Linked DNA regions of Homo sapiens. The protein of the gene in region 1 interacts with the protein of each later gene in a biochemical or structural test. Each region holds a gene or a part of one and is shown in the gene's direction. Other genes may lie near its edges.

Region 1 (4,582 bases):
CCACGTGTGGGAAAATAGGCCCCTGGGGGCGGCGGTCCCGAGTTCCTAGCCAGAGCGGGATTAGGGAGTTACGGGTTCCCTGAGGAGTGAACTATGGAGGGTGTGGTTTGCTGTTGTCTGGGGAAGCCGGTGCCAACCCGAAGCCTGGACAGGGGAGGACTGGAATCCCGGCACACGCTGCCCATGCACTGCACGCCCATCTACTGCAGCCTCTTCGTGGCGTCCCGGCACCCCCCCCTCCTCCTTCCCTCTTCCCAACGCCACGACCACCACCCCCAGCCGCCGCTGGAGCCCCCGGTTTCCCGCCTAGTCGTTTGTTTTTGTACGTAAAAGGTGTCTCCGGATCACAGTTTTCTCACAACTTTCTCGCCAGGGTTGCAACTCCTCACCCGAGGCGCTTCCCGGTCCACTCCTTCCCCCGCGCCGGCGCCGCGCCTCCGGTCTCCCCGCCCCCATCAGGAAACCGCCCGAATCAACTTTGCAAGAGTGCTCTGCGGGAGACAGACACTCAGCTCGCCCAGGACCCGGACCCTGTGGACTTTGGATGGATTGGGGGAGGGGGCACAGAAAGAGGGACGGGAGGAGGGAGATTCTGCTGCTAAGAGCCTCCTCCCCCTCCAAAGATGTGCGCTGCGCTTGGGACAAACTTCCAGCTCAAGAAAGTACGGGGGGACAATGGCAACAGCCGCTGAATTGCAAAGCCCAGCAGTGCAGGGGAGCCGCCTGGGATTCCGGACCCGGCTGCACCCCAACCTTCCACAAGGCTCGGTCTTGGACTACCCCCACTCTACAGCAGAACTCTGGCCTCCGCCTGCGCCTATTCCCGCTCTCTCTCTGTCCCTCCCATCGAAACCCACGCCTTACCGGAGCAGGAGGGGGCCCAGGCACGGTGCTGCCCGCCGTCCGCGCCGCGCGGGGCCGCGGGTGCCGCCGCCACTGATCCTCTAAACGCGGTCTCCCCGCACTCTCCCGGGCCGGGGGATGCAGAATGGTTTACAGAGGGACCGCGAGGCGCTGATTGGTCGCAGGCCGCAGTGACGTCAGCGGGCGCTGCATTAAGGCGAGGGGGCTTCCAGAGCTCAGCCAACAGCCAGGAGCAGTGACCAAGCCGCCGGAGCTGGGGAGAGACGCACCGGGGCGGCGACTGGGCCAGGAGACCAGGGACTGAGGGACGCGCCCGGGGAGGGCCAGCAACGAGCCGCGGCCCGGGCGGCGACAGCGGCGGTCCGCGCCGAGCCGTTCCAGCCGCCGGCCTACTGTAGCCGCTGCGCCAGGACATTTTTTTTTAAAGCTCTCCAAGCTGCCCCCCTCCTCCCCGACTCCTCCCGCTGCAAAAGAAAAACAAAAAAAAAAAAAGGAAGGAGGCTAGAAAGGAAACCCAGATTTGCCACCACAACGAAAAAAAGAAGGGGAAAAGGAAAAGGAGAGAAAGTCGAGCGACTGTGGGGTTAGACGGAGGCAGACAGAGCGTGGGCCGAGCGATGCGGGGCTGTGCGCCCAGGCGGCCGCGAGTTGTGACTGGAGCCACGATGCACGGCCAGGCGCGGTGAGAAGCCAGCCCGTAGTGCCTCCCGAAGGAGCCCGGGCGCAGGGAGGGTCGCCCTGAGGACACGGAGGCCGCCAGGCAGGCCAAGGGCCGAGGTGACTGGGCTGGGGCGGTAGGGAAGGAGCGAGTGCGCCTGGCTGCCTCCGCACGGAGTTGTCCCTCTCTGTTTTCGATTGACACAAACACTTCTCCAAAAGCGGGGAAACCTAAGCAACAACAGCAATCAACACCAAGATCTTCCTCCTACCCTCCCCTCTTTCCCTTCTCCCGCGGTCGGCCCTCGCCCCCTCCCCCAGGCCCAGCGCGGGCGCTCGGCGCGTCCAGACCCGCGGCGCGATGCCGGCAGTTTAGGATCCAAAGCTTCTCTGCTCCTTTTGTTCTTTCCTTCCCTTTTTTAAAAAAAGAGGGGGGAAATCCCAGTGGTGGGCAGCCTGGCACGCACACAGTCGCCCTCATACCCCGACAAAAGCAGATGCACTTTGACTTCTGACAGCTCTACCTCAAGCCCCGGAGAACTCAGCGGCGCTTTCCTCGCAACCCGAGCTCGGCGAGTCGTCGTCTTCTTCTTCTCCGTTTTTATTTATTTATTTCCGTTCCCGCCGCCGTTCTCGCTGACCTTCACTCCTCCGCGGGCTCTGAGCAGAAGGGTCGCATTCTCTCCCGCCTGAGACTTCTTTTCCTCGCCCCGGGAGCTCAGGCGGCGCCGCTCCAGCCCGGGGCCCCGGGACTCCCCGGCTGCACACTTCACTGAGACGCCCCCCCAGGCCCCGATCAGCCTCGTTTCCTCCACCCTACTTTGATTTCCTGGTGCGAGTTTTGGCTTGCACGGCCGAGTGTGTGTCCTCTTTTTGGAGAGACTGGGGAGCTCGTGCCGATTGTCTTCAGGAGTCATCCCCTGGGCTCTACTTTGCCCCTCTCTCTCTCTGGGCCTCATCAGACCAAACCAAAGACCATGGTTCACTGTGCCGGCTGCAAAAGGCCCATCCTGGACCGCTTTCTCTTGAACGTGCTGGACAGGGCCTGGCACGTCAAGTGCGTCCAGTGCTGTGAATGTAAATGCAACCTGACCGAGAAGTGCTTCTCCAGGGAAGGCAAACTCTACTGCAAGAACGACTTCTTCCGGTGAGTACTTTCCTCCCACGCCTCTGCTGCTACCTCCCCGCGGGCCCTTCCCGGCCAGCTTCGGATCAGAGGTTAGCGTGGCCTCGCTGCCCAGTTAGGAACTGCTTCTAGAGAGGGCAGCCAAGTCCCGCGGGCGCCCGCCTCTCCGCCAGCTGGCGCGCTGGGAGCCCGGGACGCGGCCCTGCTTGCATCCTGGAAACTATGGGTCTGGGTTTGGCTGCATGTGCCTGGGAAGAAAGGGTCTGAGCCTGACTCGGCCCAGAAGCCCCTTCAAGCTTGGAAGAGACAGGGCAGCCTCGGGCGTTGTAGCCCGGACTGCTGTCTTTCCCGGAGCCAAGCTCTGCAGCAACTGCATTCTCCAGGCCTTCGGGGTTGTTTGCCCTCCAGGCAGAGCCCAGGCTCCCTCCCGGCCACTACCTTTTCCGACCCCGAGCGGTCTTGGCGGTAAGCTCCGAGCCTTTTGCGTAGAGTGTCTGGGCCAACTGCCCTGTCAGCGGCAGGAAAGAACTCGGCCTTAAAGCCGATCCTGCACGCCCGGGGGTCTTCCCCAAACCCGGACATGCCTCCGAGTGCAGACCTGGACAAACTGCTGCACTGTAGCCTGCGAAGTGCCCGGAGCTTTTTCCTGCTTCCCTGGCTGCCGAAGTTGTCTGGTGGTTCGGCTTCAGCCCCAGGTGACTCCGACTCCCACGGGCTCCGCTCAGTAGTCCTCCTAGGAAACTGCCAGCCACAGCCAGCAACCTCCTTGATGAAACCTGGGGGAAAGCCGAGACCTCCAGCTTGCTGGTGGGGAGACTTCTCCCTACCCCCCTTATTCGTTTAGCATTTTAATTATATTATCGTACACTCACAATTTTGCCGCTCCATTCACACAAACACACAAGTCAACAGAGAAGAACGGGCACAAATGCGAATTGTAATTCCACCCTACGGATGTGAAATATCGCAATTTACTCGGCTGACTTGGTCTCTGCTTTTCTGAGTTTGTGGTCATAGTTCAAACCAGGGAGCAGGAGGAAGAGGGATTCAAAGCCACTCAGAGGGCCAAGACGCGCTGTCCCCAGTGCCGCTCCAGGACTCGTGGCTGGGGTTGGGTTGCGTGGAACCATGAAGCAAAGCTCCGTGCTCGCTGGTATTTCGGGAGAACGCGCAGGCTGAGCCTCTGAGCCTCCGCGGGCTGCCCGGTTTTCCTCAAGGACTGGATCATAGCGGGAGGGTGGCAAACCGTACTCGTACCCGCTGCCAGTGGGTCCCTGAGCCTGGCTTCCACAACCCGCGGCAGAGCGCCCAGAGCCAGCTCCCGCAGCTCCCGCTTTTGCCAACCTGTCCCGCTTTAGGCAAGAGCGTGGCGGCGGCCCCGCTAAGGCTACGGAGGGGGGCTCTCCGCGGCTATGTTTGTTTACCAACAGCGGGGCTAGACATCGCCAACCCCATGCCTATGTGCGGGTCCTTTTGCGATGAAGGAGAGAAAAGCGGCGCTCCGCGCACGTTTATATAGAGTTCTAATTGTAATTCGACTTTTCTGAATCTAATCGGAAAATAAGTGCCCCGTTCCCCCCGCCCACACAGGTCACTGCCTTGCCACCTTCTTTAGACGATGCATCTTTCCTCTGGGATAACGCTGGGAGTGAGGCTGGGGCTTGGCGGGTAGCTTGGGCCCCTGGCTCTAACCGCGTGTATCCCCTCCCTAACTCTTCCCTGGTGCCGCGCTCTCTCTCCTGCTGCCTCCTCACCTGCTTAACCGGAATTCTGCCTCTCTTTATCTCTCTCTTCCCTTCTTTCTGTGCTCCATTCCTCCTCTCCTACTTCCTCCACTTTTTACATCTTCCCTCTTTCTCGCTGTCATCTTTCTCTCCGCCTGTCTCCCCTTGCCCCTGGCTGACCCATCCCCGCCCCCGCCCCCCACCCCCACCC
Region 2 (3,802 bases), on another chromosome or scaffold:
AAAGTTAGATTGAAGGGCCCATGCCTTCTATGCAGAGTGCATACCTAGGCCGGTTGTGGAGAGAATCTCTTAGTTTTGGGTTTTGGTTTTCCTCTTTTCCTTTTAAAGGTGGATCCAGGAGCAAAAGTGAAAATAGTCTATTTTGAGAATTTTAGCCATTTTGCAATGGTAAGGGCAAAGGAGCCCCTGGAAGGATCTCGGCCCTGGTGCTTTCTGTGTGTTACTGGCTTTTTATGTTGGAATGTGCTACTTTATTGTATGATGTGTCAGGCATTTCTAATTGGGTGAGAGCTCTACATGTAAGAACATTTCCATATTTCTCAAGGGTACATCTGATATGATTTTACGATTCTCTATAGCACTGTAGTTCAGAATTTTGCAAGGTAGTACGATTAAACAAAAAATCTCCAATCTCCAGTTTAGAGGCTGTTTAAACACATATACAACTGTATTTTAAAGCTGTCGCATATGTGTTTAAACAGCCTCTAAGCTGGAGATTTTTGTTTATTTTCGCAGCCTCCAAAGAACAGCATTTTGAAAAGAAAAGACAATACAAAAACATAAAGTCTGTATTGTAGGGGCAACTAAATTAGTTGTACTGAGGATAATACAAACTCCTCCAAGAAAGACATTTATAAAATTATATTAAGTTAGATCTTAGGGTAGAAAAGCATGACTTTTGTGCTCTGAATTTAAATCAGAAAGAAGTTGCAGTTACTAAGTTTCATTTATGGACTTTTGTGCCTTGCTGTCTTAAGCAACGTAAATATGAAAACCCGGAGTCCTTTAAAGTCAGTGAGACCTTTATCTTGTATCCGCCATTTTGAAGCAATCTCTCATGGTGTCAAAGTTTCAAAGTAGAGATCCTTGCATATAAGTGCCACATTTTAGGAAAATAAAGGCCAGACTTGCAAACTGCCAGTCTATATTAACATCTACTTTGAATCTCTTTGCTGGGGTGGAGGCGGGGAGCTCAGCTGAAGAAAGTAAATAACTTTTCTTTTTCTTCCTTTCTTTTCCCCCTTGAGCTCTTTTTCTTATAGGATTGTAGGAAACTTGAAAGGTAGGGAGAAATTCTACTAGTTTCACAACTTTGGGTGTTTGTGTATCTACTTTCTTCAAAACTAAAATGTGCAAAAGGCAGTTAGAGTTAACAGGAAACTCTGCTGCAGCTGCCGAGGACCCAAATGTCTGAAAATTTGCCTCCCGCAGGATCTGCAGCCTCCACACATCAAAATCAACATGGAAGCAGCTTGCACTACAAATGTGGGGTCCCGTCATTATCTGATTGGTGGGATTCTAACTTTACTTCACAATTTCTGGCAAGCCCTGTGCCAATCTTGAAGACTTTTTTGGAATATGCTTAAATATTTGATGGGTGTCTATTAAAAGTTAAATACTTGTTTGTTTAGCTTTCGTTCCTTAGACACATATAATCAAGATTCTCCAAAACCCTAATAAATCTGTTACTTACCTCGAAATCTAATTACCCAGACTACTAATTAGGTGAAAATGATTACCGGAAATGACTTCAAATGTGGAATAATAGTGGTTGAGCGGTTTTTCCAAGTTTGTGGTTTAGTGAGTTGGTATTTTAGATGTTAAACGCACTGACATTTTAGGTTCGCAGCAGTTGAAAGTGGTAAAAAGCTAAGATAATTAAAATCTCTGCCATGGAAAGGCAACAGTCTGGGGAGAGGTAGATTTCTTGAATTGTTTCTTTGTTTCTCACCAATGGGCTTTGTTATCAGCATTATTTATTTAGCCAAAGAGTTCTTTGTCTCTGCAAATGGCCCCAATCAAGTTTTGTTTGAGACAATTAGCTAGTGCCAGCCAATGAGTCCTATGCAAATGTAGGGATAGGAATGCAATGTGTGCATTTGAAGGCACGGGTTTTTGTTCTTGGGGAAGGCAGATTGTAATTGCTTTCTTCGGGTACTTTTTTTTTTTTTTTAAGTTTAGGGTGGGGGTGGGGAAGACAGGTTTATCTGGTCTCCTTCCATCCCCTCTAGTTCCAGAGCAGCTGGGGGTGGGGGTGGGGATGGGGGTGGGGGGAGTGTCTGCAAGTCCTTTAAAAGCCTCTGCCTCGCCTAGTCCGTGCTCTTTTTAAGTTAGTGCTGGAACGTGGAAGAGCTGCTGCCTCCGAAGCAGTAAACCAGCCCCTCTGTTTGTTTGTTTGCTTTGCCCTTAGTTCCACTGCTCCAAACCCACCCACCAAGGACTCTGAACCTGTCCACCCCGGGCGCATCAAGATCTTCCAGCTGGGTACCCCCGATTTGGGCCGACTTTGCACCTCCAAACAACCTTAGCATGATGTCTTATCTTAAGCAACCGCCTTACGCAGTCAATGGGCTGAGTCTGACCACTTCGGGTATGGACTTGCTGCACCCCTCCGTGGGCTACCCGGGTAAGTGAGCCCTGCTGCACTCCCGCACCCCTCTTCCCCATGCCCACCCTCCGGGGATGCAACACCCTGTTCCCATGGAACACGGGGGTTGGCAGTCACACTGTCCCCACCCAGCTTCAGGCTTGGTCTCCTCTAGGTTTGCCTTCTGAGGAAGCAGTCCCAGGGCATTTACTGACCAAGCAGAGAACAGGGGTTGGGAAAAGTGAGTAGGTGGGTCTGCAACCGTTACAATCACATCACTTTATTCTTAATTCGAGTAAATAAGGATTGGCATCAGAGTGGGATGAGGAAGGTTACTGTCCTTGTCATTTGGGCAAAAGACCCCTACCCATATCTCAATGACCAATTCCTCAGAAGTGTCCTCTTGGAGAAGCTGAGTTTTCCCTCCGTAAGTCCTTAGCACTCTCGGGCTTCGCAGTTGTTCCCTCCATGCCCAGGCCTTCCCCTATGACCTCCAGAGCCTGCTTTAATCCCAAGAGGCGTGACTTCCTCCAAATGCGGGTGCTTTCCTTTCCAATCAGATATGTTTAAAAATCCTCCCAGGAGTATGAACTATGTCCCCATTTTAAAGATGGAGGAACAAAGGCCCATGGTGTGCTAAAAACCATGGGAACAGGATCCAGATTTCCCCCATCAATTCGAGCTGCCAGTCTGTCCTCGGAGATCCTTTGACTTCTTGGAATAGCCTTTTTGTGTTGTGGTTTGGGGGTTGATCTTGGAGAACTTTTTTGTGTGTCTTTTAAAAAATGTTTCATTTGTTAACTTTCCAAGTGATGCTCTGATTGGAGCAATCTCAACACCAAGAAGAGTAGGGAAAGAAGCAGCGTGTGTCCTGGGTCCCCGGGGAGCAAGGCTGGGGAGACGGTGGGGAGAGCATTGGTAGGCTCCCGGCTGAAGGGCTGTGAGGAACGGGGGACTGCTGCGGGGTGGAGGGCAGGGGCGTCGGAGAACCCGCGGAAACGCCTATGACTGAGAAACTGCTCCCCCACCCTAAAGGGCCCTGGGCTTCTTGTCCCGCAGCCACCCCCCGGAAACAGCGCCGGGAGAGGACGACGTTCACTCGGGCGCAGCTAGATGTGCTGGAAGCACTGTTTGCCAAGACCCGGTACCCAGACATCTTCATGCGAGAGGAGGTGGCACTGAAAATCAACTTGCCCGAGTCGAGGGTGCAGGTAGGGCAGATGCAGGCAGAACCATCCTTCCTGATCATGCCACCCTTCCCGAGTATGGGACTGTGGAGAGCCCCAGGTCTTTCAGAGGACTGAAGGAAGGCTTGAAATTCTCCTTCACTCACTAAGGGGCCAGGAAACTATTCTCCTTCTGCCCTTTTTTGCCTGCCCGTCACCACTTAATCCCGTAAGCAAGGGTCTTCAAGGCCCGGGTTGCTGGTGGAGA

Evidence for each region.
Region 2: the proteins of LHX1 (region 1) and OTX2 form a complex in vitro, tested with the Homo sapiens proteins (one study listed by BioGRID).

What each region holds. Positions count from the first base shown.
Region 1 is NC_000017.11:36,935,700-36,940,281, forward strand, and holds the start of LHX1 (LIM/homeobox protein Lhx1), read left to right. Parts: upstream 1-1,775; 5' UTR 1,776-2,498; coding exon 2,499-2,668; intron 2,669-4,582. UniProt on the Homo sapiens protein: Potential transcription factor. May play a role in early mesoderm formation and later in lateral mesoderm differentiation and neurogenesis.
Region 2 is NC_000014.9:56,803,965-56,807,766, reverse strand, and holds part of OTX2 (homeobox protein OTX2), read left to right. Parts: intron 1-2,099; exon of another isoform or gene 2,100-2,191; 5' UTR 2,192-2,310; coding exon 2,311-2,407; intron 2,408-3,403; coding exon 3,404-3,579; intron 3,580-3,802. UniProt on the Homo sapiens protein: Transcription factor probably involved in the development of the brain and the sense organs. Can bind to the bicoid/BCD target sequence (BTS): 5'-TCTAATCCC-3'.